Regions from separate parts of the Homo sapiens genome. Here all the other regions are linked to region 2. Evidence: fine-mapped expression QTL. A gene starts in region 2. Each other region holds a variant in brackets. All regions are shown on one strand. Distances are between the middles of the regions. Region 1 overlaps FOXK2 (forkhead box K2). Region 2 holds the start of FOXK2 (forkhead box K2). Region 3 overlaps FOXK2 (forkhead box K2).

Region 1 (8,000 bases), 76 kb before region 2:
ACACACACACGAGTTGGGCACATGCTCCTGATGAGGCCCACACGTGCTCTCTTGGGAAGGCACTGACTCTGTTGATCTAAAGATGCTGAATAAGGCAGAAGGGTCTGTGCAGCGAGCACTGCAAACTCTGGTTTGCACCGAGGACCACATGGTGCCAGGAAGGACCATCCTGGACAAGGAGTGTGATGTATGAGCACCTCGGGCCCACGTGACCTGTGTCGACACGGGTGTGTTACAGGGAGTCACGGCTTAGCGCGTGGGGCCTGGAGGCGACCCTGCCCCTGGGCACACCCAGAGGCGCCGCCGCCTTCACCAGCCCCTGCCCCTCACCGGCTGAACTCGTAGACAGGCTTGCTCTGTGTTCCGTGAGAGCTCTGAGCACAAGGGGCTCTCGCCACGCCTGACAACCCGGGGACTGTAACTTGGAGCAGCACTTCAGCAAGCCCGGGAGGACTACAGGAATTTCCTACCATGAAATGGAACCTGAAGTAGGTGAGAAGATGGGGAGGGGGTGGTCTGTGGAATAAAACAAACGTGAAATCAAGGAGATCGGCAGAGATCAAAGAAAGAGGGGCTCCGCCAGCTCTGCCACACACTCTGGATTCAACACCGTCCCAATCAAGACGCCAGCAGGCTTGGTGTAGGAATCCTACAGTTCACGCGGAAATGCCAAGGACCTAGAATGGCTGAAGCGATTTTTAAAAAGAACAAAGTTGGAGGAGCGACACCTCCTTAGTGGGAGACTTGATGAGGCTGCAGGAGCTGGGCAGGGAGCCCTGCCACACAGACTGCCCGCAGAAAGTGCGTCTGGAAACAGTCCCCACGTGTGCGCGGTCCCGGGGCGTGACGAGGGCACCAGGGCAACCGGTGGGGCAGGCACGTCCTGACGCCACCTCTGAGGCTCCCCCTACACCAAGCTCTGAGGCTCCCCCTACACCAAGCTCTGAGGCTCCCCCTACACCAAGCTCTGAGGGTCCCCCTACACCAAGCATGGAAAACACAGCAGGAACGATGAGAAGGGAACAAGCAGCCACCAAGAATCTGGGCAAGGAACGTGTTCCAGAATTAAGGCGTCAGCGAACAACTGCCCTAGTAACGTGAAAGAAAAAGAAGAAGGGACTCAGGCTACTGAAGGCGAAGCAGGAACTGACCTGCAGTTGGTGTGAGCTGGGCAAACCCCGTGACCACCTCAGATGCTCCTCCCTGCAATCGCGGTCGCAGTCTGTGGCCGCAGGTGTGGCCTCAACCGACTCTAATGTGTCTACAAAAAATGTGCAGACAGCCGGGGCCACTGCGGTAGGCCAGAGATGCACAGACGCGCAGTGTGACTCTGGTTTCCAGTGGCCTTTCTCCTACGCTGACTCGGAACAGCATCCACGCTGTAGGTGTCTCTGGACAACCTTCCACCTGTCGTTTCTCATCCCAGGTTCCGGGCTGCCGGAAAAGGCTTTGCTCTTGTCTCCAGAAGCACCTGCTGGTCTGTCTGGATGGGGCCTGCTGTGTCAACTGAGGCAACTCCAGTCTGAGCTGGCACATGGGGGCCTTCTGAGGCCAAGGGGCCCTGGGGAGAGGAGTGGGAAAGGACCCCAAGTCACAGGAGCCAGGTGCACTTTTAGGGCCCAGGGAATAGTGACACAGGCTTAATAACAGGGACCGACCCCACTGTTAGAGCTTTCAACGAAGAAAAACCGTGACCACATGTATAGCACTCTGTCCTCTCCAGTTCAAACACAAGGAGAAGGCTGGGCGCGGTGGCTCACACCTGTAGTCCCAGCATTTGGGGAGGCAGAGGCGAGAGAATCACTTGAACCTAGGAGTTTGAGACCAGCCTGAGCAGCACGGTAAGACCCCATCTCTACAAAAGAAAAAAAATATTAGCTGGACATGTTTGTACGTGCCTGTAGTCCTGGCTACTCAGGAGGCTGAGGCAGGAGAATCACTTGAGCCCACGAGTTCAAGGCTGCACTGAGCTGTGATCACGCCACTGCACTCCAGTCTGAGTGACAGACCCTTTCTCAAAAAACAAGACAAAAGCCGTAGAACCTGAAAACCAGGCAAGACAGGCCACTTACCTTGTGACACCTCCACTATTACCTGTCACAAGGAAAGGACGACCTAATGGGAATCTGTTTACAGAGCTGTACAAAGTCTTAGAGAAACAAGCAAATTACCCCTGCCCCACGGCACACCAAACCCTGCTGCATCCCACGTTGCCCCCATGGTTAGAACTTGCCTATCCACAAAATGCTGTCAAAGACAATGTATGCCGGCTTGCGTTTCTATTCCTCCATTTACTTACTATGTGGAGAGGGTCTCACCCTGTCTCCCAGGATGGAGTGCAGTGGGGCGATCACGGTTCACTGCAGCCTCAACCTCCCTGGCTCAAACGATCTCCCTGCCTTAGCCTCTTGGTGGCTGGGACTACAGGTGCTGCCGCCACAGCCACTTTTGTGATTTTTTGTAGACACAGAGATTCACCATGTTGTCCAGGCTGGTCTTGAACTCCTGGGCACAAGCAGTCTGCCCACCCTGGTCTTCCAAAGTGCTGGGATTGCAGGCGTGAGCCACGGCGCCCAGCTGTTCCTACTCCTTTAGGGAAAGAACTAAGTTCCTCTGCGAGTCCATCTACAGAGACGGGCTCCGCTGCTGCCTACTCCAATCTGCAGACACTCACAAGGGGACGTTCCCCACCCTGAGGGTCCTCACTGATTCAGAGGGCGGCTTTTGGAAAGATGACTGCGGAGATGCATTCACATTTTTGGCCTTCCATGCACACTAATCCTCCCCACATAAATTCCAATATTTTCAAACTGAAGTGTCTGGAGCATTTTTTTTTTTTTTTTTTTTGAGACAGTCTCGCTCTGTCGCCCAGGCGGGAGTGCAGTGGCGCGATCTCAGCTCACTGCAAGCTCCACCTCCCGGGTTCATGCCATTCTCCTGCCTCAGCCTCCCGAATAGCTGGGACTACAGGCGCCCGCCACCATGTCCAGCTAATTTTTTGTATTTTTGGTGGAGACAGGGTTTCACCGTGTTAGCCAGGATGGTCTCAATCTCCTGACCTCGTGATCCGCCCGCCTCGGCCTCCCAAAGTGCTGGGATGACAGGTGTGAGCCGCCGTGCCCGGCCTGTCTAGAGCATTTCTTAGCGGCCAACTTTTACTCCACAGGCAACCTACGTCATAACACTTGACAACACCCCAGTTGTGGGCTGTGTGGGTACTACACGCAGCAAGCCCCTCCGAGACCTCCAGGAAGCATCAGAAGACCCTATACTGTGGACAGAGACGCCGGAGCAGCTCAGACACGAGAGCAGCTGCTCCACTGCCACCGCCACAGCGATGATGGGTGCGGCTCCCGCAGAACACAGGCCCCGACCCGAGGCCTCGCACCTCCTCGTCCGCGTGGCCTGATCCCGCTGCTCTGGGGCTGTCAATCCAGTGGCGGCAGCTGCTGCTCTGCCTGGAAAGGCTCCGCTTTGAGGCTGGGTGTGAAAGACGTCCAGGGACCCTCAGACGTCACTGCCGTTTTACATGCTCACAACGCAACACCCATCGTCACTGTGGGACCAGCTAGGGATACCCACATCATCAAATCCTCACCCCAAATCTGGCTGCCAGATCCCCACCGA[G/A]GCACGCGTGAGCACCTGGCGGCCACAAGGGACCCGCAGCCTCAGCCCGGCTCCCCTGTGTCCTGCTCTGTGCCGATGCACTGCTCCCTCTGCAAGGGTCCTTGTGAGGGACATGGGACCGTAATTCCTCTGTGGGGCCGGGAGCCAGAAGGCTCGGAAGGCCCACACTCTCCCAGGTATGTGGCCTGCAGGCGTGGGGCTATAGCCGTCCAGCCAGCTGATCCTGGCACAGGCACCCGCACAGCACGCGGTGAACAGGGCTGGGCTCCGCCAGGGGGGCGCGGGGCTTCATCTACCTTCCTCTGTGCCTATCGCTCTCCTTTCCTTCCTTCCTCTTTCCCTCCCTCCCTCCCTCCCTCCTTCCTTCCTTCCAGAAACTGCTGCGTACCCTTTCAGAATAAGAGCCTGTGCCCGGTACAGGGAGACCTTCACAGGGTCTGCTTTCAGAATAAGAGCCTCTGCCTGGCACAGGGAGACCTTCACTGGGTCTGCTTTCAGAATAAGAGCCTCTGCCTGGCACAGGGAGACCTTCACTGGGTCTGCTTTCAGAATAAGAGCCTGTGCCCGGTGCAGGGAGACCTTCACGGGGTCTGCTTTCAGAATAAGAGCCTGTGCCCGGCGCAGGGAGACCTTCACTGGGTCTTTCAGAATAAGAGCCTGTGCCCGGTACAGGAAGACCTTCACGGGGTCTGCTTTCAGAATAAGAGCCTCTGCCCGGTACAGGGAGACCTTCACTGGGTCTGCTTTCAGAATAAGAGCCTGTGCCCGGCGCAGGGAGACCTTCACAGGGTCTACTTTCAGAATAAGAGCCTGTGCCCGGCACAGGGAGACCTTCACGGGGTCTGCTTTCAGAATAAGAGCCTGTGCCTGGCACAGGGAGACCTTCACAGGGTCTCCCTCTGCCAGCGCGAACTGGGCATTTCACTCTCACTGCGAAGCGTGCGCCCTCACACCAGGCGCCACAGCTGAGATGCAGAGAACCCCAGCCAGCTTGAGGAGATGCCCCAGGAAACACTGGAGTCAACAAATGATATTTGAGGACCACGTAACTGCTACACAAGGAAGAAGAGCAGAGTTAGGCAGGAGGGAGCAAACGATCAAGGCAGGAACAATGTTAACGAAAGAAGCGAAAGGCAGGGCCTGAGGAGAATGTCGCAGGGTGAAGCAGCAGCAAAGCCCAGGCTTCCCAGCAGGGCTGGTCAGGCAGGCCTGTCCAGACAGGGAGTGGCCCCGTGAAGGGCCTCATGAGGTTCCTCCACTGTGAGGCTTGAGCTGTGGCAACACCTTCCACTGACAGTGATCTGTGAACCCTTAAGAAGGTGACAGAAAGAAAACAAGAGGACACACATGTGAGCCCCATGAAGGACCAGGACAGTAGAGAGGCCGGAGGAGTCAATATGTGAGCCAAGAGATGCTCCAGGACCGCAGCTCAGCCCAGGAGCACACTGAGCAGGCGAGGCCCTGGCCAAACACAGCTCAGCCCCGAACTCCCAAATCAAAACGACAACACTGGCTGGGTATGCTGGCTCGTACCTGTAATCCCAGCACTTTGGGAGGCCAAGGCTAGAGGATCACCAGAGTCCAGGAGTTTGAAACCAGCCTGGGCAACATAGTGAGACCCTGTCTCTACAAAAAATACAAAAACTTAGCTGGATGTGGTGCTGCACACCTGTAGTCCCAGCTACTTGGGAGGCTGAGGCAGGAGGATGGCTTGAGACCAGTAGGTCGGGGCTGCAGTGAGTTGAGATCTCGGCACTGCACTCCAGCCTGGGTGACAGAGCAAGACAGTATCTCAAAACAACAGCAGCAAAGATGAAGTCATTGACAAAAACACAACCACAGTTGTGCCAGTAAACCAGAAACAGCGCCTGCAGCCCAGAGACAGGAGATGAGCTTTGGAAACAGGAAGCAGAAGGGCCTGTGGTGTGGACGGCGGCACCCGCAGCCCTGAGGCAGGGGTCTCCCAAAGCGAGCTCTGAGGGTGCTTGTACACAGCACGTGTGATGGGAGGAAGTGAATATGCAAGAGCTTGGGCGCCTGGACTCTTCCCACATCTCCCTGCCAGGGAGACTTGGGAGCGTTTCCAGAAAATGCCAGGCTTTCCTTTCCATGTACTCAAAAAGGGGAGGCCTCAAGCCCTCCCCACACTCTGGAACAAGCTTGGAGCAGTTTCTTGGTGCCAGGCACATTTCTGGGGCTTCCCTTCCTGTAAGAGGAAGCCTCCCGGCTTCCATCTCCTCCAGGCCTTCTCCATGGGGCGGCAGCATGATGCACCCCAGCTCTGCACAGGGTTTGGGGCCCTGGAGCAGAGCAGGGGACACAGGAGCATTGGCAGGTGGGCAGGGTGTGGACAACGGCGACAACGGGACCAGGGGCCACCCTGGTGAACCTGACAGGCCAGGGATGGGCTCGCCTGTGTTTGAATGAGGCCTCCATGGAGACCCCTATGGAAGCAGGAATGAGGGTACACTCCAGCTGGAGCGACAACCCCAGAGTCACCTTCCAGGAAGACACTGGCAGCTCATGCCCTGCGCCTGCCCACGGAACTCACCTATCATCCCACCAAGCCACCTGCTGTCCTGCAAGGCCAGGGCTACAGTGCATGGCCGGAACATCCTGACCCCTCGTCCTGTCAGCCCCACCTCCCATCTGTCAGCACTGTCTTCACGACACACGCAGGGGCCAAGCCCTGAGCCCCGGGTCCCACAGCAGCTGGTGGCAGAGGCAGAACCGGCCCAGGCTGCCCTTGGGGCCAGGGTGAGGATGGAACCCCCTTAGGGCAGGCAGCCCAGCCTCGGCCTATCTGCTCGTGGTGCTGAGCCCTCTGGTACCCCTGGGAGAGTCTCAGGCAGCCTGTGCAGTCCCTCCCTGCACAGGACATTCTAACCCCATGCTTGGGTCAGAAAACTCGGCCACATCCACATAATTCCTCAGTAAAAATACTACATTTTCCTTGGGGTAATACACTACACTACAATTTAGTATAAACATAATTGCTTAATATAGTAGGAACCCAAAAATTTCATGTGACTGGCAGCTCTACTGCAATATTCATTTTTTTGCAGTGGTCTGGAACCAACCCTGCAATGTCTCTGAGTTACACCTACATGTCTGAAAAGGCCTGAAATCTCTACATATGAATAAAGAACTACAAATTTCACAACAAAAAGACAACCCAATTAAATGATGGGCAAAGGACTTAAAAAAAATTTCTTCAAAGAAGATACACAAATAACCATAAAGTACATGAAAAGACGTGCTGGCCAGAGGCGGTGGCTCACCCTGTCATCTCAGCACGTTGGGAGGCCGAGGTGGGCAGACTGCTTGAGCCCCGGAGCTTGAGACCAGCATGGGCAACATGGTGAGACACTACCTCCCAAATAAAAAATAAAAGACTACAAGAGGCCAAAATTATGAGCACCTGTGCAGTGGTTCTCATCCTAGGTGTTCAGCATCCAGGCTGTAGCCGACACTGTTTTAAGGAAAATCATTTCCAGAATCTCCTCTTGGTCCTGAAGTCTTTTCTTAAAGCCCATCTGCCACCTCCTCTCTCTGAACAGCCTCTCTCATCTGCTCAACTGGGCACTGGCTTTGGGGATGAAAACTATGGGATGGAGCATGAAAGCAATAATAGGAAATACTGGTGCTGACAAGACTTTTTTTTTTTTTTGAGATGGAGTCTCGCTGTGTTGCCCAGGCTGGAGTGCAGTGGTCTGAACTCGGCTCACTGCAACCTCCATCTCCCAGGTTCAAGCGATTCTCCTGCCTCAGCGTCCAGAGTAGCAGGGATTACAGGAATGTGCCACCACACCCGGCTAATCTTTGTAGTTTTAGTAGAGACGGAGTTTCACCATGTTGGCCAGGCTGGTCTCCAACTCCTGATCTCAAGTGATCCGCCCACCTCCACCTCCCAAAGTGCTGGGATTACAGGCGTGAGCCACCACACCCAGCCAAGATCACTGACAGACTTTCACGTTCATCTGGAAACAGGCCCTCAGTGCTGACACTGTCCTCTCCTTCCTGAGTGGAAACAGGCCCTCAGTGCTGACACTGTCCTCTCCTTCCTGAGTGGAAACAGGCCCTCAGTGCTGACACTGTCCTCTCCTTCCTGAGTGGAAACAGGCCCTCAGTGTTGACACTAGGACTGTGCAACCATCAGTGAATACAGAACGAATCAGGTGGTTTCCTTTAAAGCTAAATACACTAAGAAAGGCATCTTCAGTAACATTTTAATTTTTGGTTTTATAAGAATTTGTTATATTTTTGGGTTTTATCAATTTTGTTACTCATAGACAAACTTTAATATTTATATCTATATTTTATTGCTGCAGAGAAAAGATATGACTAATAAATGACATTTAAGCCTAAAGTAT
Region 2 (10,356 bases):
ACTTATCTCCATGTTTATCATGTTAGCATGTGCAGAATTCAATTCAATACAAATCGTTCTGGCTGAATGGTGAGGAGAATTTTCTTTAAAAACTCAAAATCGGGCCAGGCACAGTGGCTCATGCCTGTAATCGCAGCACTTTGGGAGGCCGAGGCGGGCAGATCATGAGGTCAGGAGATCGAGACCATCCTGGCTAGCATGGTGAAACCCCGTCTCTACTAAAAATACAAAAAAAAATTAGCTGGGCGTAGTGGCGGGTGCCTGTAGTCTCAGCTACTCGGGAGGCTGAGGCAGGAGAATGATGTGAACCCGGGAGGCATAGCTTGCAGTGAGCCGAGATTGCGCCACTGCACTCCAGCCTGGGGGACAGAGCAAGGCTCCGTCTCAGGAAAAAAAAAAAAAAATTCCAAAAAACTCAAAATCTTGGCCAGGTATGTGGGAGGAGTGGTGAGATCATAGCTCACACCTGTAATCCCAGCCTGGAATGCAGTGGTGCAATCATAGCTCACAGCAACTTCAAACTCCTGAGCACTGGGGCAGGAGGATCGCTTGTGCCCAGAAGTTTGAGGCTGCAGTGAGCTGTCATCATACCAGTACACTCCAGGCTAGGTCACAGAGACCGTGTCTCAAAATCAAAAACAAACAAACAAAAACTCAAGATCCTCACAGTAGACGCAAACTTCCTTTGTTGTGACACAGTATTTTGTAAAAAAAAAAAAAAAAAAAAAAAAGTCAGATTAAAGGGTAGCCATTAGGACCCTACCATTGATTTCATACCGTCTACAGTATAAACACACATAAATAGCATTTTCATTTGAAAATTTCTTTTTTTTTTTTGAGGCGGAGTCTTCCTCTGTCCCCCAGGCTGGAGTGCAGTGGTGCGATCTCGCTGGCTGCAAGCTCCACCTCCAGGGTTCACATTCTCCTGCCTCAGCCTCCTGAGTAGCTGGGACTACAGGCGCCCGCCACCGCGCCCGGCTAATTTTTTTTTTTTTTTTGTATTTTTAGTAGAGACGGGTTTCACCGTGTTAGCCAGAATGGTCTCGACCTCCTGACCTCGTGATCCACCCGCCTCGGCCTCCCAAAGTGCTGGGATTACAGGCGTGAGCCACCGCGCCCGGCCTGAAAATAACATTCTTTAAAATGCTACTACCAAAGTTTAAGGAATATGCTGGTGCACCTTTCCATGCTAAGAAACAGAACAGCGCATGCACACACACACAACACGCAAGTCAAGAAGAAAAGCAACAGCTCTTACCAGCATCTCCAACAACCGAAAGCGTTAAAAATTCCAATTTGTAGGCCGGGCGCGGTGGCTCACGCCTGTAATCCCAGCACTTTGGGAGGCCGAGGCGGGTGGATCACGAGGTCAGGAGTTCAATACCAGCCTGGCCAAGATGGTGAAACCCCGTCTCTACTAAAAATACAAAAAATTAGCCGGGCGCGGTGGCAGGCGCCTGTAATCCCAGCTACTCGGGAGGCTGGGGCAGGAGAACCACTTGAACTCAAAGGGCGGAGATTGCAGTGAGCCAAGATCGCGCCACTACACTCCAGCCTGAGCGACAAAGTGAGCCTCCGTCTCAAAAAACAAAAAACAAAAAAATTCCAGTTTGTGTGGACAAAGGCTGTACTTGCAATGATCTAGAAGTGAGCCCCTGAGGAATAATTAGCATTTCCTAGACAGCAAGTTTGTGTTTCAAGCAGAGTAAACGATAACTTCATAAAACCACAGGACCAAGCTAAATTGTTTTGTAGCAGGATAGGCAGTTCCCTATCAGGCTGACTTAACACTCTACATGACCTTGTAATAATTCCTAATCAACTGTCTTTTTGTAGAAGTTATGCGAAAAGCATCTAGTTTTCCCTAAATTTTAAGGTTCAGAGCACAGATTGAAAATCCATCATGCTTGAAGCGTCTTCCAATTTGGCCTACTGAAAACACGGCAGGGAAAAAGGAGTCCTTCCTGCTTAAAACACCGCACTCTTGAAACAGCTCACTACTGAAAACGACTGAACAACAACAACAACAAAAGACAACAGACAACCCTTCATCGGTTAAGAGACATAGATTTTAGTTCGGGGCAGTTCCTCCCACCGCACACCGTTTTCACATTTCTGTTCAGCGCGACCTCGCTGCAGAATAGAAACAGCACACGTGAACTCCCCGCACGCACAGAACCCAGAAACCTTGACCCGCGCGCGCAGCCGCCCGCAGCCCCGGCTCCAGGAAGGGGGAAAGACGGGGGGCTGCACCTGCCAGGAAGGGGACCGGGAGGACGGGGGTCGGGGCCAGGGGCTGTCGAGGGTTGGGATCCAGCCGGGGCCTGGGTCCCGCTGGTGGTCCCGGCTGTGGGAGAGTCGGGCCCCCGCTCGTGGGTGGTCCCGGGCCTGGGCGCGTGTCCCGTCCCGTCCTGCCAGGCGCTGCAGGCCGCAGACCCCGCCCGCCCCGCCCCGAGGCCACTCACACGCGCGGCAGCTGCAGCGGCGGCGCCCCGCGCCTCTGGAACACGCCGTCCACGAATACCCCGTTCTTGCCCAAGCAGCGCAGGTAGAAGTCGCCGCCGGCGTCGGGCCTGGGCTGCGCGGGCGGCAGCTCCGGAGCGGCCCCGCCATGGCCGCCGCCGCCCGGGGGCGTGAAGATCTCGAGGTGGCGCCGGGAGATGAAGCTCGAGTGGCCCATGCTCACGTCCACCGAGCCCTGCGACGAGTTGCGGCCGATGGTCACCGAGCGCTTCTTCATCAGATACTCGAACTCGCGGCCCTCCAGGCGCGCCACGGCCCAGCCGCCCGGCGGGGACCCGCCGCCCCCGGCCCCGCCGCCCCCGGCCCCGCCGCCCGCGGGTGGCGTGCCCGCGCCCGAGAGCGCCGCCGCGGCCGCCGCCATGGGCCTGCGTGAGGGCCCCCGGGCCGCTCCGCGCGGGCGCCGGTGGCGCGGGCCGAGGCCCAGGCCGCGCGGGTCGTCGGCCGCCGCGCACCGGAGCTGAGGGAGGGGGCCGAGCGGAGGCCGCCGGCCGGCGAGCGAGCGAGCGGCGGCGAGGGGCGGGAGCACGCGCGGCCGCGCCACCGAGCCGGCACGCCGGGCCCGCCCCTCGCTGACGGACGGTTACGCCGGCCAATGGGGGCGGCGTACGGCAGTGGGGCTACCGAAGCAGGCCAATGGCAAGACACGTCGCACCAAGCTGCCGGCACGTCCGGCGGCGACGCCCGACGCAGTCCCGACTCCGGGCGCCGCGGAAAACCCGGGGCGGACAGTCGGCAGCCCGCGCGGGATCGGGGCTGGCGCGGGGTTGGCGCGGGCGCGGGAGCTCGGGGGTCTGAGCCCGGCCTGGCAGCGCCTTAGGCGCGGCGGGCGGGACCAGGCCCAAGGTCACAGCGGGCGCCAGGCACGCAGCGGCCCCCAACCCGGCGTGGACGCCGGGGTGCGGATAGGCGGCGGCCCGCGAGCCCAGGCCCGGCCGCCGAGCGGCCTTTTCCCCGCGAGGTGCGGGAATATCGCGGAGGGGCCGCGTGCCGCGTGGCCTCAGACCCAGGGGACCCGGTGACACGTTCGTTTTTAACCAGCAGCTCCAGGACTGGATGTCGTTATCTTTCCTGGCTAGCGAGTCATGTCATTGTGTCAAAACTGTCCTGCAAAATACGCAGAAGTTCTGAATCACATTTACTTAACTGTCGTCAGCACACAGTTTAAAAATATACACGAGGCCGGGCGCGGTGGCTCACGCCTGTAAGCCCAGCACTTTGGGAGGCCGAGGCGAGCGGATCACCTGAGGTCAGGAGTTCGAGACCAGCCTAGCCAACATGGTGAAATCCCAGCTCTACTAAAAATACAAAAAAAAAAAAAAAAATAGCCGGGTGTGGTGGTGCACACCTGTAGTCCTAGCTACTCAGGAGGCTGAGGCAGGAGAATTGCTTAAACCTGGGAGGCGGAGGCAGGAGAATTGCTTCAACCTGGGAGGTGGAGGTTGCAGTAAGCCGAGATCGCGTCACTGCACTTCAGTCTGGGCAACAAGAGTGAAACTACGTCTCATATGTATATATATGAACTATATATATGTGAACTATATATATATATATGAACTATATATATATGAACTATATATATATGAACTATATATATGAACTATATACATATATGAACTATATATATATGAACTATATATATATGAACTCTCATGAACGAATAGTTAATATCTTAACCAATCTGATACTAAGTTTTTAAAAAAAGAATTTCGCCACCGTTTAAAAAATTACAAGATCCCATCTAAATCAAGATGATCAATAGTCCAGATGTTCACTAATCAATGAAACTCCTAACATTAAAAAGAAAAAATCCTGTGGCCGGGCGCGGTGGCTCACACCTGTAATCCCAGTGCTTTGGGAAGCCGAGGCGGGTGGATCACAAGGTCAGGAGTTCAAGACCAGCCTGCCCAACATAGTAAAAGCCCGTCTCTACTAAAAATACAAAAATTAGCCAGGCATGGTGGGGCGTGCCTGCAGTCCCAGCTACTTGGGAGGCTGAGGCAGTAGAATCGCTCGAACCTGGGAGGCGGAGGTTGTGGTGAGCAGACATCACGCCACTGCCCTCCAGCCTGGGTGACAGAGGAGACTCCGTCTCAAAAAAAAAAAAAAAAAAAAAAATTGGGAAAAGAAAGAAAAAATCCTGTAAATGTATCTCACGGGTACTTAACCAGTTGTGGAGACGTTCAAGGTTCAGGATCATGAAAAGTCTACAACCTCTTAAACAGGAAGAATTCCGTGGGAAGTCAGTGTCAGCCCTAGAAACCATGGCTTGGGCTCCAAGCGCGCATCTTCGCAAAACTGAAATAGCAACAAATGGTACCAATTTAGTCTCTGCTGGGGAGGGACTGCCCCCTGAATTGTCTCACTTCTTTCAGCATGGTGGTTCCTGCAGGGTGTGTGAGGAGAAGATCCTATTATAGCCTATATATACAGGTTATAGCAAACACCCCAGGGTTCCTCTATTTGCTGCTTGTTAAATAGCAAAGAACAATTAGAAGAGAGAAATGATATAATTTAGGTACAGAGGCCTGGCACGGTGGCTCATGACTGAATCCCAACACTTTGGGAGGCCGAGGTGGGTGGATCACTTGAGGTTAGAAGTTGGAGACCAGCCTGGCCAACATGGTGAATCCACATATCTACTAAAAATACAAATATTAGCTGGGTGTGGTGGCACGTGCCTATAATCCCAGCTACTTGAGAGGCTGAGGCAGGAGAATCGCTTAAACGCGGGAGGCGGAAATTGCAGTAAGCAAGCGGAGATTGCACCACTGCATTCCAGCCTGGGTGACAAAGCCAGACTCTGTCTCGAAAATAATCATCATCATCATAATGTAGGTACAAAAGGAGTTTAGTGTGAGTAGAAAGACTTGAGACTGGACTTAAACGGAGCAGGATAAAGTGGAGATCCTGAACAGGAACCACCAACTGGGGGCCCCAGGCAGGAGACATCAGGGTCAGTTCATGCATTTTTATTCCTTCAATGTGTAAAAACTTTTTCTAAAAGAAATGGAAATTAATGTGTCCCTCTGAATGTAACATTTACATGTCTTTTTTTTTTTTTTTTTTTTTTTTGAGTGGAGTTTTGCCCTTGTTGCCCAGGCTGGAGTGCAATGGTGCGATCTTGGCTCACTGCAACCTCCACCTCCCAGGTTCAAGTGATTCTCCTGCCTCAGCCTCCCAAGTAGCTGGGATTACAGGTGCTCACCACCACGCCTGGCTAATTTTGTATTTTTAGTAGACGAGGTTTCACCCTGTTGGCCAGGATTGTCTCGATCTATTGACCTCGTGATCCACTTGCCTGGGCCTCCCAAAGTGCTGGGATTACAGGCGTGAGCCACCATGCCCGACCTACATTTACATGTCTTAATTGCCATATATGTGTTTGTAATTATAGTACAAATTCCTACAGGTGCAAAGTGTTCTGGCAGGATTTCCTAGACAGAAAAAATTGTTTCATTAAATATTCACTTATATATTAGAGGAATTTTTTTTTCTTTTCCTTTTTTTTTTTTTTTTGAGACAGTCTCACCCTGTTGCCCAGGCTGGAGTGCGGTGGCCCAATCTCTACTCACTGTAACCTCCGCCTCCTGGGTTCAAGCGATTCTCCTGCCTCAGCCTCCCGAGTAGCTGGGATTACAGGCGTGTGCCACCACACCCAGCTAATTTTTATATTTTTAGTAGAGACGGGTTTTCACCATATTGGCCAGGCTGGTCTCGAACTCCTGACCTCCAGTGATCCGCCCGCCTTGGCCTCCCAAAGTGCCAGGATTACAGGTGTAAGCCACCGTGCCCGGCCATATTAGAGGGATTTTAGGGGACATTGAGATGACTATGGAAATGATAAATAGGAAGTGTATCATTTAACCAAAAAAAAAAAAAAAAAACAGGCCGGGTGTGGTGGCTCACACATGTAATCTCAGCACTTTTGGGAGGCCGAGGCAGGCGGATCACTAAAGGTCAGGAATTCAAGACCAGCCTGCCCAACATGGTGAAACCCTGTCTCTACTAAAAATACAAAAAATCAGCTGGGCGTGGTGGCGCATGCTTGTAATCCCAGCTACTCAGGAGGCTGAGGCAGGAGAATTGCTTTAACTAGGAGGCGGTGGTTGCGGTGAGCCAAGATCGTGCCACCGCACTCCAGCCTGGGTGACAGAGTGAGACTTTGTCTCAAAAAAAAAAGAAAAGAAAAAAAGAACAACAAAAAAAGATGGGCAGGCCAGGCATGGTGGCTCACACCTGTAATCCCAGCACTGTGGGAGGCCCAGGTGGGCAGATCACAAGGTCAATAGATGGAGACCATCCTGGCCAATATGGTGAAACCCCATCTCCACTAAAAATACAAAAATTGGCCGGGCACAGTGGTTCACGCCTGTAATCCCAGCACTTTGGGAGGCCGAGGCGGGCGGATCATGAGGTCAGGAGATCGAGGTCATCCTGGCTAACACGGTGAAACCTTGTCTCTTTTAAAAATACAAAAAATTAGCCGGGTGTGGTGGCAGGTGCCTGTAGTCCCAGCTACTTGGGAGGCTGAGGCAGGAGAATGGCGTGAACCTGGGAGGCGGAGCTTGCAGTGAGCTGAGATCTCACCACTGCACTCCAGCCTGGGCAACAAAGCAAGACTCTGTCTCAAACAAGAACAAAAACAAAAACAAAAATTAGGGCCAGGTGCAGTGGCTCACGCCTATAATTCCAGCACTTTGGGAGGCCGAGGCAGGCAGATCACCTGAGGTTGGGAGTTCAAGACCAGCCTGACCAACACAGAGAAACCCTGTCTGTACTAAAAATATACCGGGCGTGGTGGTGGGATTACAGGTGTGTGCACCACTATGCCCAGCTAATTTTTGAATTTTTTCAGAGATGGGGTTTTGCAATATTGCCCATGCTGGTGTCGAAGTCCTGAGCTCCGGCGATCCATCCGCCTCAGCCTCCTCAAGCGCTGGGATTACAGGGGTGAGCCACCGTGCCCAGCCTGTAAATTTTTATTAAGACCAAAAAATTGAATTACATTGGAGACATATCTTTTAATAACATGTCTGGAGCTTTTCCCCGCTGACAATTCACTCATGTATCCACTGATGAAAAGTGCTTATTGCTATAATGAGGCAGGTGTATATAAATATTATCCCTGTTATTTCATTAATGTATACATAGAAATAAATAGAACGAGAGGAAGTTTTATTACAACAACCTAACTCTGATTTTTGAACCTCTTTTGATTGCTGCTGTTACAAGGGAGTTGAAAAGCGATCGCAGAGGACACAGGACTGGGATACACGGCAGCAAAGGTAAAGCATCTTGGTCCAACCTGGGCACTCAGTTGAGACCCCAGAAAGGGAACACCTTAGGAGTAAGGGCTTTAGGATTAGGGGGTGTGTAAACTTTACTAGTGTTAAGTTCACCAGTATAAAGAAAAAGCTAAAATATATGAAATGGAGAATTTATCGAATTATCTAAACACCAAACTGGAAACAGCTGAAGACAAGATTTTTCATCTCAAAGTTACATCGGTTGAAATAATCTGAATCAAAATTCCAAGATAAAAAGAAAGAAGGAAAATGAGAAAAAAAGAAAACAGAAATGAATATTAGAGACCTGTGGGACAAGATCAAATGGTTGAATAAATGTGAAATTTGACTGCCAAGAAGTAGGGAGAAAGAAAATAGAGCAGAGGAAATATTTAAAGAGATAATATGTAAGAAGTTTATACATTGGTGAAAATATACCAACCCACAGATCCAAACAGCTCAGCAAACTCCCAAAAAGATACAGTCAAAGAAAAATACATAAAAGCATATCATAGTCCAACTGCTGAAAACCAACGATAATGAGAAAAGTCCTAAAAAGAGGCAGACTTTAAAAGGTACATTACATTCGGCCGGGCGCGGTGGCTCACGCCTATAATCCCAGCACTTTGGGAGGCCGAGGCGGGTGGATCACCTGAGGTCAGGAGTTCAAGACCAGCCTGACCAACATGGAAAAACCCTGTCTCTACTAAAAATACAAAATTAGCCGGGCCTGGTGGTGCATGCCTGTAATCCCAGCTATTTGGGAGGCTGAGACAGGAGAATCGCTTGAACCTGGGAGGCAGAGGTTGCAGTGAGCCGAGATCGCACCATTGCACTCCAGTCTGGTCAAAAAGAGGGAAACTCCGTCTGAAAAAAAAAAAGGTACAATACATTCATGGAGGCATCAATAAGAATGACAGCTGACTTCTCATCGAAAGCCATGGAAGCCAGAAAACAAAGAACTGACATCCGTAAAATGCTAAGAGTAAAACAAAGTCATTGAGATCAGAATTGAATATCTAACAAAAATGTTCTTCAAAAATTGGCTGGGCATGGCTGGGCGCGCCTGGGATTACGCCTGTAATCCCAGCACTTTGGGAGGCCAAGGCGGGTGGATCATGAGGTCAGGAGATAGAGGCCATCCTGGCTAACATGGTGAAACCCCGTCTCTACTAAAAACACACAAAAAAATTAGCCGGGCGTAGTGGTGGGTGCCTGTAGTCCCAGCTACTCGGGAGGCTGAGGCAGGAGAATGGTGTGAACCCAGGAGGCAGAGCTTGCAGTGAGCCGAGATCGCACCACTGAACTCCAGCCTGGGCAACAGTGCAAAACTCCATCTCAAAAATAAAAATAAAAAAAATTGGCTAGGCGCAGTGGCCTTTAATCCCAGCACTTTGGGAGGCCGAGGTGGGTGGATCACCTGAGGTCAAGAGTTCGAGACCAGCTTGCCCAACATGGTGAAACTCCATCTCTACTAAAAATACAAAAATTAGCCAGGCGTGGTGGTGCACACCTGTAACCCCAGCTATTTGGGAAGCTGAGGCAGGAGAATCACTTGAACCTGGGAGGCGGAGGTTGCAGTGAGCAGAGATTGTGCCACTGCACTCTAGTCTGGGCGACAAGAGCAAAACTCTGCCTCAAAAAAAATAAAAATTAAGGAAAGGTGGCCAGGTGCAGTGGCTCACTCCTGTAATCCTAGCACTTTGGGAGGCTGAGGTGAGAGGATCACCTAAGCTCAGGAGTTGAAGACCAGCCTGGGCAACATAGTGAGACCTCGTCTCTATTAAAAAGAAAAAAGAAAAAATTAAGGAACGGTAATGAAAGAAATTTTCAGATCAACAAAAGCTGAAAATTATCACCAGAAGATTCAGCCTTCAAAAAAATACTAACAGAAATTATTATATAATTTATTCCTTTTTTTGTTTTTTAATTTATTTTTTATCATGGAGTCTCGCTCTTGTCGCCCAGGCTGGAGTGCAATGGCATGATCTCGACTCACTGCAACCTCCGCCTCCCAGGTTCAAGCGATTCTCCTGCCTCAGCCTCCTGAGTAGCTGGGATTACAGGCACCTGCCACCACGCCTGGCTAATTTTTGTGTTTTTAGTAGAGACAGGGTTTCACCATGTTGGTCAGGCTGGTCTCAAACTCCTGACCTCGTGATCTGCCCGCCTCGGCCTCCCAAAGTGCTGGGAGTACAGGCATGAGCCACCGCACCCAGCCCTTTTATTTTTTTTTTGAGACAAGAGTCTCGCTCTGTTGCCCAGGCTGGAGTGCAGTGGCTCACTCGGCTGACTGCAAGCTCTGCCTCCTGGGTTCACGCCATTCTCCTGCGTCAGCCTCCCGTAGCTGGGACTACAGGCGCCTGCCACCACGCCCAGCTAATTTTTTTTTTGTATTTTTAGTAGAGACGGGGTTTCACCATGTTAGCCAGGATGGTCTCAATATCCTGACCTCGTGATCCGCTCGCCTCGGCCTCCCAAAGTGCTGGGATTACAGACGTGAGCCACTACACCTGGCCTATTTTTTATTTTTTATAGGGACGAGGTC
Region 3 (10,194 bases), 87 kb before region 2:
CTCCCCATTTTAGCCTCCCAAAGTGCTGAGACTGTAGGCGTGAGCCACCACACCTGGCTTTGTTCTTATTTTACTTCTTTGTCCTGGTTCCCTTCAGCCCCTTGAGCATATTTAAGACAAAGTGTTTGTCTAGTAAGTCCAATTTCCAGGCTTCTTCAAGGATGGTTTCTGTCACTATGTCCCCTGCCCCAACCTCATGAATGGCTCATTGTTCTTATTCCTTTGTGTGTTTCGTTCTGTTCTGTTTTGAGACAGAGTTTCACTCTTGTCACCCAGGCTGGAGTGCAATGGCGAGGTCTCGGCTCACTGCAACCTCTGCCTCCTGGCTTCAAAGTGATTCTCCTGCCTCAGCCTCCTGAGTAGCTGGGATCACAGATGCGTGCCATCACACCTGGCTAGTTTTTGTATTTTTGGTAGAGATGGGGTTTCACCTTCTTGGCCAGGCTGGTCTTCAACTCCTGACCTCAGGTAATCCACCCACCTTGGCCTCCGAAAGTGCTGGGATTTCAGGCGTGAGCCACCACACCCAGCCTGTTTTCTATTTTTTTTTTTTTTTTTTTAATTAGAAGTGGCCAAGCATGGTGGCTCATGCTTGTAATCCCAGTACTTTGGGAGGCCAAGGCAGGAGAATAGCTTGAGTCCAGGAGTTCGAGACCATCCTGGGCAACATAGCAAGACCCGTCTCTACAAATAAAAAAAAGTTTTATTTTTTCCCCTCAATTTTGATTTCTTTTTTCAATTTTGTTGCCTGCTTGCTTTACATTTACTTTGTTGTTGTTGTTTTTGAGACGGAGTCTCGCTCTGTCACCCAGGCTGGAGTGCAGTGGTGCGATCTCAGCTCACTGCAAGCTACGCCTCCCGGGTTCACGCCATTCTCCTGCCTCAGCCTCCCAAGTAGCTGGGACTACAGGCACCCGCCACCACGCCCGGCTAATTTTTTGTATTTTTAGTAGAGACGGGGTTTCACCGTGTTAGCCAGGATGGTCTCGATCTCCTGACCTCGTGATCTGCCCACCTCGGCCTCCCCAAGTGCTGGGATTACGGGCGTGAGCCACTGCGCCCGGCCTCAGAATGCAATTTTTTTAATCTTTATTTTTGAATATTTGCAGTGTACTTTCCATTTCAGCATCCTTGTTTGTCTGTTTTTTGAGACAAGGTCTCACTCCCATTGCCCAAGCTGGAGTGTGGTGGTGCAGTCACGGCTCAGTCCAGTTTCAGCTTCCTGGGTTCAGGCGATCCTCCCGCCTGGGCCTCCTGAGTGGCTGGGACTACAGGTGCACACCACCACACTTGGTTTATTTTTAGTAGAGACAGGATTTTGCCAAGTTGCCTAGGCTGGTCTCCAACTCCTGGGCTCAAGTGAGCCTCCCACTTCGACCCCCCAAAGTGTTGGGATGAGACACTGTGCCCCGCCCTGCATTCCTAATTCAAAAATTTGAAGTCCAAAATGCTCCAATGAATATTTCCTTTGAGCATCGTGTCAACACTCAAAGTTTCGGATTTTAGATTACTGAGTTTTCAGATTAGGAATACTCAACCTGGATAAGTCAGTTTTCTTTGGCTGCTTTCCAGGTTAAAAAAAAAATGTCTTTTCTTTAGTTTATTGCCTCAACATGGTTTTCCTTGAGATGATCTTATTGGAATTCACTCACCTTCGTGAATCTTTAAAGTATTTATTAAAAAAAAAAAAAAAATATATATATATATATATACACACACACACATATATAGGCCAGGCGCGGTGGCTCACGCCTGTAATCACAGCACTTGGGGAGGCCGAGGCGGGCGGATCATGAGGTCAGGAGATCAAGACCATCCTGGCTAAGACGGTGAAACCCCGTCTCTACTAAAAATACAAAAAATTAGCCGGGCGTGGTGGTGGGTGCCTGTAGTCCCAGCTACTCCGGAGGCTGAGGCAGGAGAATCGCTTGAACCTGGGAGGCAGAGCTTGCAGTGAGCCGAGATCGTGCCACTGCACTCCAGCCTGGGCAACAGAGCGAGACTCCGTCTCAAAAAAATAAATAAATAAAAATAAATTAAAAAAATATATATATATGTATTTTTTTTTTTAAATGAGACAGTCTCGCTGTCGCCCAGGCTGGAGTGCAGTGGCGCAATCTGCGCTCACTGCAACCTCCGCCTCCTGGGCTCAAGCGATTCTCCTGCCTCAGTCTCCCGAGTAGCTGAGATTACAGGTGTGTGCCACCATGCCCGGCTAATTTTTGTATTTTTAGTAGAGATGCGGTTTCACCATGTAGGCCGGGCTGGTCTTGATCTCCTGACCTCGTGATCCACCCACCTCGGCCGCCCAAAGTGCTGGGATTACAGTCATGAGCCACCGCGCCCACCCGGACTAAAATATTTCTTTAAAAAAAATTGTATACGTTGTTTCTCTGTTTTATAGGAATCTAGTGACATACACAGTAGACCCTTCAATCTTGTCCTACAAGTCCCAGTTCATTTTTGTTTCCAAATGTTTTTCTGTTTATTCACTGAATTTTTTCATTTCTTTGATTCAAGAGCATTTGCCCTTATTTCACAGAGCATGGTTATAATAACTGTTCTTTATCTGATATTCCCAATATTTGGGTCATGTGAGAGTTGGCATTCGGTCTTTTCACTTTAGGGCAGAGATTTTTCTGGCTCTTTTTACGTTTAGTAATTTTGTATTCTAGACATTCGGCATACCTTGAGACTCCCAAGTCCATGAAACCCTCTGCAGGATGCTGAGTTGTGTCTCAGCAGGCAAGTAACCCAGTTATGTTCTGATTGCATGTGCCAGCCTGCCTCCTGGAGCTGTGACTCTGGTGTCAGGCTAGTCTTCCAAGTCTGTGTCGTGCTGTTCACCCAGGGGCCAGTCTACACAGGAGTTGAGCTCAAATAGCCTTTGCTGTTTTCCCCACGTCAGTGCCATTCATGTGGAGCTTTAGGGGGTCTCTTAACTCCTCTGCTGTGTCCTTTGACTTAAAAGCCCAGGTTTCAGCCTCTCTGTGCTGTTCCCATTCCTATGACTAGGTCCAGCTTGGGGCCAAAGTGGAGCAGGGATTTCCCTCATGCTCTTTGGACTACAGGGGCCTGTTTTCCAATTCCTCTCGTCAGCGTGAAGGGTTCTGTGGGAGTCGCCAGCGTGAAGGGCTCTGTGGGAGTCGCCAGTGTCTGCAGGGCTGCTGCTTGCAGGAGTTTCCCACGACCGTCTCTGCCCAGGATGAGAGGGAAGCGGGCTTCTCTTGGAGATTTTAATGTTCATCCCTAATGTGCAGTTCGGATAGACCGCCCCCGACTAGGCCCAGCAACGGACTAGGCTCAGCAATGGGAGGGGAAAACCCAGGAAAAACCCATCACACCGGTCCTTGTTCTGGCTCTAGTCTGCCTGCTGTTCTGTATTATATACGACTGACTTTCCATAGGACTGAGATAGTTGCTCTGTTTGTTAGGTCCACAGTTAGTCATAACCCCTAGGAGACACAGGTGGAGGAGTCCACTGGAATCTTTGTAGCCAGTTTAGTCATCAGAGGTCACTTGAGACCCACTCTGAATTGTAATTTTGTGTTGCTGTGGACATAGCTCAGAAAGGGGGCAACAAACAGTGACAATTTCCCAGCACCCATCAACGCAGCCCGGGTGCACTGCAGACGCAGACCTGGCAGAAACAAATTACAAATGACTGCTTCACTTTGCTGGAAGAGGCAGTCTCGCAGGGCGTGATAAACAGTTCTTTTATGCCAGTATGAACTGTTTTAAATTAGGGGATCAGTGTAAGGAATAAAACAAACACTCCGTTATGAACTCTCTGTCCGTGAACATCATTTAGCTCCCAAAGGCCTCTGTGTCATTTTCAGCACGGTTTCTTCCCTCTGCTACCCTGGGGTGAGTACTGATAATGTCATCACGATTCCAGACATTAGCGATCCACACCAGATTTTCAGGGCCTGAAGATCAAAGTGTTCCTGTGTGGGAACTTGAATACCCAAGTACCTCTTCAGAAGAGCTGCTTTTTCTTTTTTTCTGAGACGGAGTCTCGCTCTGCCGCCCAGGCTGGAGTGCAGTGGCGCAATCTCGGCTCACTGCAAACTCCACCTCCCAGGTTCACGCCATTCTCCTGCCTCAGCCTCCCGAGTAGCTGGGACTACAAGCGCCCGCCACTGCGCCCGGCTAATTTTTTTTGTATTTTTAGTAGAGATGGGATTTCACCATGTTAGCCAGGATGTTCTCAATCTCCTGACCTCATGATCTGCCCGTCTCGGCCTCCCAAAGTGCTGGGATGACAGGCATGAGCCACCGCGCCGGCCAAGAGCTGCTTTTTCATTTTCTGAGAAAATGTCCCTCAAGATGCTTTGCAGTGATCTTCATTCTCAGGTTGGAGAGAAAGTCTGCAGAAGAAATAGTGGCAGCCACAATCTCCAAGTAACTTTAAAACTCCGACATCATAGATCAATCAATCAAGACCCTGTTACCACTGCCTGTGACACGGCGCCTTTTCTACCTGCACGCTCAACCCGCTGTCCCACTGGCAGGGCCTGCAGTGCTGGTCCTCAGTGCAGCTCCCTGGTTAAGTTCTTGCCAATGCGCTAGGCCTCCGGTGTGCTCAGAAGAGAGCATGAAGTAAAAAGTCAGTCAATCAAAATGAAAATGATACTCTGCATTCCATTAAAATTAATAAAAATATTTTATTGAATTTCAGGAACTTGGTACTTTTTTAAAACTTCAAATCTTTGCACACAAATCACCACTATACTTTCTAGAATAGTGGAAGTTAGGACTTCAAGATTGTCACTTATCTCCTTGTGTCACACAGCACAGAAACCCCAAGTCCTCACACTGCCCCCACCCCCCTTCTGGCCATGACTACCAACTACTCTGTTATTCTAGCGGAGGACAATGACGGAAGTGGGTAGACGACTGAAGGAGATCAGCTGTCCACCGCGTACTCTACTAAAGTGAGAGGAGGAGCAACCGAGGATCATGCCGCACACACTCTGAGTGCACCACGTGACGTGGGTCATACGGGAGTTCCCTTTTGTTTTCTCGTTTGGTTCAGGGCAAAGCTACTGAAATTGTTCCTAGTCCCTGAGGAGCTCAGAAGTTGGGCAAAGGTCACAGCAGACTTCCTGAAAAGCAGACACTGAGGAACACAGTGGAGAGCGGGAGTTCACAGCGACGCAGCTGAGGACGACGCAGGACCTCTCCCAAAGGTGCTGCAGCTCCAGCACCAGGGGCCAGGGCTGCGGCGACAGCAGCTCAGCAACCCTTGCTGTGCTCAAGTTCTTGGGGATTCAGAGCTAAGTTCAAAATTTAGAAACAGTGCCTTAAAGACGGGCAAGAAAACCCGGTGTGGGAGTCTGCTCATCTATGGTTTGTTACTGCTCTCGCTTCGATATTCTTAAATTCCTAGGTACCAATGAAAAAGCCAAGTGAACGTGGCAGAGTGAGGAGGAGACAGGAGCGTGTGCACCTTCCATCTGTGAGAGGCACACTTCAGTCTGGGTTCAAGATGCAGAATGGTGCCTACGGCAAAAAAAAAAAAAAAAAACACCCTCCTCCCTTCTTTACCATTTGAATGGACATTTTCCTTACCTGTGATCCCAACAGAAACAGATCCAGACCTATCATGTGAAGTCCACGTTCCAGGATCAGAAGTAACCAGTTTATGGACTGAGCTTACACGGGAAAGTCTACCCCCGACTCCTTCTGGATAGTAACATACACAGCTGCATAAAAACGTCTCCAAGGGGACATACGATGCATTTGCTTGGTGTCCCAGCCAAGCTCCCCACCGGCGACCTCACTGTTCCTTAGAGCTCAAGAGCTCGTCTCCTATCAATCAGAGAACCCCATCAGCTGTGACCAACAGAGCTGGAGCCCTCTGTGGAGGGAGCTGACCCCACACACAGGACAGAGCAGAATCCTGATTATTTTACAAACTGCAAACCTTCTGAGTAAGAAGACAAAAATATACATTCCAAGGTATCTGTAAAGTGCTTGGAAGATGCAGACAGCTGCACCGAGGGGCTCTGATCCATCCACACGCTGCGCTTTGCTGCGGTCACACACACGGTCTCAGTCACGTGATGGTTTTGCTTTTATTTCTTAAACGGCTGAGTGATAATCCAGCTAGTGTGCAGTCATTTCATACCTTTCAATGGGCGTCACCGCAGTGACGCTGCCCCAGCCCCATGCTGAGGGCCGACACAATTCACGGAACAGATTCATCATATTTGGTCTTTATGTAAATAATAAATGTTTTAAAATTGCCTAAATATACCATTCTGAGCCATTTCATCCCTATTTCATCCCACCAGGAAAATACAGGTTTTTTCCTCTCTAAAAAAAAATTAAATACCAAAATAACTACATTTAAATAAATAATGTTATGATGATGACATTTAAAAGCTCAGCCATCAGGCTGACGCCCTCTCCCCATGTGCACGGCCCTCGGCCCTCGGCCGGCACACTCGGGAAGGGCCAGCGGTTTTCTTCCTGAGGAGCCGGGCGAGGAGGTGCAGGGACCTCCCACTCTCATTCCCTCACCCCCGTCCTGTCCTCATTTTCCGTAGAGGAGTCAGCCTCAGGATTGGGTTCGGTTCTGAAAGGTCAGGGACATTTCCTACCACAAAACAGGAAATGC[C/A]CCAGACGTGCCCTGCAGGACGTGGCTCGGACCCTGCTCCACCATGGCGGCCGCTCACCGAAGGTGGGGAGTAGACAGCAGGTCAGAGGCCGCCTAGAGCCGGAGGGACACCCCAAATACAAACATACCACGGAGAGACCTGGGATCTGAGTTTCAAAAGGGCCTGTGATAAAAGACTGAATCTTTTTCCAAATGAAGTAGAAATGGTTCTGTCGTTTTAAACATACACAATACTTAGGAGACTTGTTTTACTCAGAGTGGAAAATTTTGCCAGGGACAAAGTCAACACAAAGAAACAAACAACAAAAAATAGCCAGAAAGAGAACAGTTAAGTGCAGCTCGGTGAGTCCCGGCAGTTCCTTCCCGGCACTGGCTCGTCCCTGGGTTCTCAAGGTTCCATGCGGCCACAGCGTCCGTCCACCTGTCCACGCGAGCCACATGCTGAAATGGAGGTGGATAAAATTCATCAGGCAGCTGCTGTAACACGGAAATGTGCAGATGCCAGAGTAGCTTCGTCTGAACTTGAACAAGACAGACAAAAGGAAATCATTCCATAGGCTGAAAACAAAAACAAAACTACGTTGTTTCTTTGCCCCAAATGAAATCCACGGAAAGGGCCTGTGTGATTCTGAAAGTCTCAGTAGAAATGGAGTGATGTGAAATGCCCAAGACCCCATTATTTTGTAAAGAAAGGACACCTCAAAATACTCTAATTCCACATGTCTCCGCTGCCTGGTGGGTCCTGTGAGGGCGGCGGGGATGGCTCCCCCCGCGTCCTGAGGCCTAGTCTTGGGAGACCCACTCACAGCAGGCGCTGGCCGTGCCGTCCTCACACAGCGATGCCTGGTCCTCGCGGGAGGACAGAGTTTCACTCGTAGGTAGAAGCTCAGCCCAGCAGGTGCTCAGTGGAGACACCGTCTCCCAAATCAGGTTTTGTTGTGTGTGGGTTTTGTTCAAGTGTGACTTCTGTCTTTAAGGAGTGTTAAGGCCAGCTGGGTTTTGGGTTTTCAGTGCTGAGAGGTGAAGTCCAACCACAGGGCCCTGCACCCCCGAGTGCTGGCGGGAGGCCGCGTCTCCTTTTGGCACCACAGAGTTGATATCGTTAAAGAAAAGCTCTCCCGGTCGCTAGTTCTGGACACCCTTTTCCCTTACGGCTGCCGGTGGCGTGTCCACGCTCAGGGCAATGACGATGCCCTCGCCGTCTTCTGTCTTGATCCGCTTCAGCTCCGGCTGCTCCGGCTGGTCACCGTTGTGGCGCTTTGTGGGCAGGGAGGCCGATGCGGATGCGTGTGTTGCCAACATGTGCAAAGGACTCGCCGCGGCTGAAATGACACGAGGGAGTCAGAACCCCACGCTCTCACGTGAACCCTCGCGACTCAGAACCCCACGCTCTCACGTGAACCCTCGCGAGTCAGAACCCCACGCTCTCATGTGAACTCTCGCCCTCTAAGGGTCCTGCCACTCCCAGGCCCGCGGAGGCTCCCACAAGACCCCAGGGACTGGCCCACGGTGGCCAAGGGCACAGGAGCCTGGGCTGGGCCCTTGGGACCCCAAAAAACTGCAGCAAGTGAACTGCCTGATTAGCGGACATTTTTATTAACAGCTGGCATCATCTTTGTTATGTCCTATAAATAGGCTATTTTGATGTCACTGCTGGGGGAGAAAGGCTGAGTCCAGTAGTGGTTGAGGCAGACAGGAGATGGCCCTGCTGGCTCGGCGAAGGAGTGGCTGCCGCTCGCTGCTCTCCCTCATGCGGAGGCCCTGCCCTCGCCCCCCCACCACCCGCACAAGATGCTCCTGGACCATTTCCACACAGAAGGGAGCGGGGCTCCATCTGTCCCATAGGAGAGAAGCACCACAGTTTCTCATGGATGCTGCTCACCTGTGTCCTGGGTCAGTCCACAGAGGTGTGTGGGCAGAACAGAGACTGCTGGCTGCTAACGGCTGACCAGGCTGAGTTAATTCCAAAGGCCAAGCTTCCAACTAACATGCGATGGGTAATGTTATGTGCCAGCCTGGCTGAGCCACAGTGCCCAGATTTTGGTCAACCATTAATCTGGATGTTTCTGTATAGTTACTTCTTTAGATGAAATTAACATTTAAATCAGTCAGCTCTGAGTAAATCAGCTGATCGCCATGAGTGGGTGGGCCTCATCCAATCAGGTGAAGGACTAAGAAAAGACTGAGGTCCTCTGAGGGGAGCACTCTGCCCTGGATGGCCTCTGGACTCTTGAGAATCCAGCACTGACTCTTTCCCCGGGGTTCGGTCCACCCTGCAGATGCTGAGCTTGGCAGGCCCCACAACAGAGTGGGCAGATTCCACAGAATCTGTCTCCAGGCCGCCGCCTTGGCTCTGTTTCTCTGGGGCACCCTCACCTACCAGGTGCCATCAGGACCCCACCATCTCCAGCTTCCGGCACAGGCCAGTCCTCCTTGTGGGCGGCGGCATTTCTGGAAGACGCTGTCACCTCCCCAGGGGGCACTTCTTGGTGGGCCCCGTGATGCTCTGAGAAGCAGGTCCTAGGCCCCTAGGCTGCGCACACACCAGCCACTGCACTTCTCTAACCCAAGACCAACTCAGAGCACCCCAGGGTGGGAGCAGGAACACACCCCTGGGAGGCCCCAAAGCAGCTGTGCAGCAACCACTTCAGGCTGTCCCAGGAGGCTCAGAGCAGACACGCCTACAGGGCAGTACCTGAACCCAACCACAAACACAGCACACATGGTACGCTACGCCCTGGTGCCTAGAGATGTGGGAGGGGGACTTGCCCACCTGTCCGTCAAGGGCCAGCCCTCTCAGACCACAGGCCCTGGCGTGGGCAATACCCGCCTCCTACTCGCAGTCCCCTGCAGGGACGCTGGCTGGTCAGAGACCGACCTCCGCCCCCAGGTCTTCCCTAGCGGAGCGGATGTGAGTCCGGCCAGGTGCGTGGTCAGCTCCTCATGGCCAGATAGCCGGGGCAGCCACGAAGAGCGGGAGTCAACACTGGGCTCCGAAGAGACTCAAGCAGCAAACGGGGACCCAGTGACATCGGGTCAGCCGTGAGAGCCCCGTTTTAGAATTCAGGACATAGCCCTGAGGCCACAGAGGTGTGTTCCCTGGAAGCCAAACCCCTGTCAACAGTGTGGATGTGTGACTTTATCGTGTTCCCTTCTCCTTTCCACCTCTGAGCAACAGAAATAGCAGAGGACCAATTTACACATAAAACATGAACAAGAGGCCAGGTGCGGTGGCTCACGCCTGTAATCCCAGCACTTTGGAAGGCTGAGGCGAGAGGATCACCTGAGGTTACGAGTTCAAGACCAGTCTCGAACTGGCCAGCATGGTGAAACACCATCTCTACTAAAAATACAAAAACATTAGCCGGGCAAGGTGGTGGGGGCCTATAGTCCCAACTACTCGGGAGGCTGAGGCAGGAGAATCACTTGAACCCAGGAGGCGGAGGCTGCAGTGAACTGAGATCGTGCCATTGCACTCCAGTCTGGGGGACAAAGAAATTCCGTCTCAAAAAAAAAAAAAAAAAAAAGAAGCTGCTCAGCTTCCAGAAAGCACGGCTGCCACAAAGCAG

What was found.
Region 1: its variant is fine-mapped to the expression of FOXK2 in whole blood (TOPMed, PIP 0.94).
Region 3: its variant is fine-mapped to the expression of FOXK2 in whole blood (TOPMed, PIP 0.97).

Annotation. Positions count from the first base shown.
Region 1 is chr17:82,589,343-82,597,342 of GRCh38, reverse strand. All of the region lies in intron 8 of FOXK2 (forkhead box K2), which reads right to left. Among named protein-coding and RNA genes, the nearest start is that of FOXK2-AS1, 4.9 kb to the right of the region's middle. RefSeq lists silencers at 3,943-4,143, 5,256-5,550. The variant G/A (reference allele first, on the strand shown) is at 3,628.
Region 2 is chr17:82,512,417-82,522,772 of GRCh38, reverse strand. FOXK2 (forkhead box K2) reads right to left here and starts at 3,041. Exons shown (of 9, transcript NM_004514.4): 1 at 2,466-3,041. The coding sequence starts at 2,884. RefSeq lists silencers at 2,202-2,251, 2,332-2,511, 2,962-3,621.
Region 3 is chr17:82,599,056-82,609,249 of GRCh38, reverse strand. FOXK2 (forkhead box K2) reads right to left here. Exons shown (of 9, transcript NM_004514.4): 9 at 4,648-7,947. The coding sequence ends at 7,751. Among named protein-coding and RNA genes, the nearest start is that of FOXK2-AS1, 16 kb to the right of the region's middle. RefSeq lists a silencer at 6,119-6,228 and an enhancer at 9,009-9,258. The variant C/A (reference allele first, on the strand shown) is at 6,626.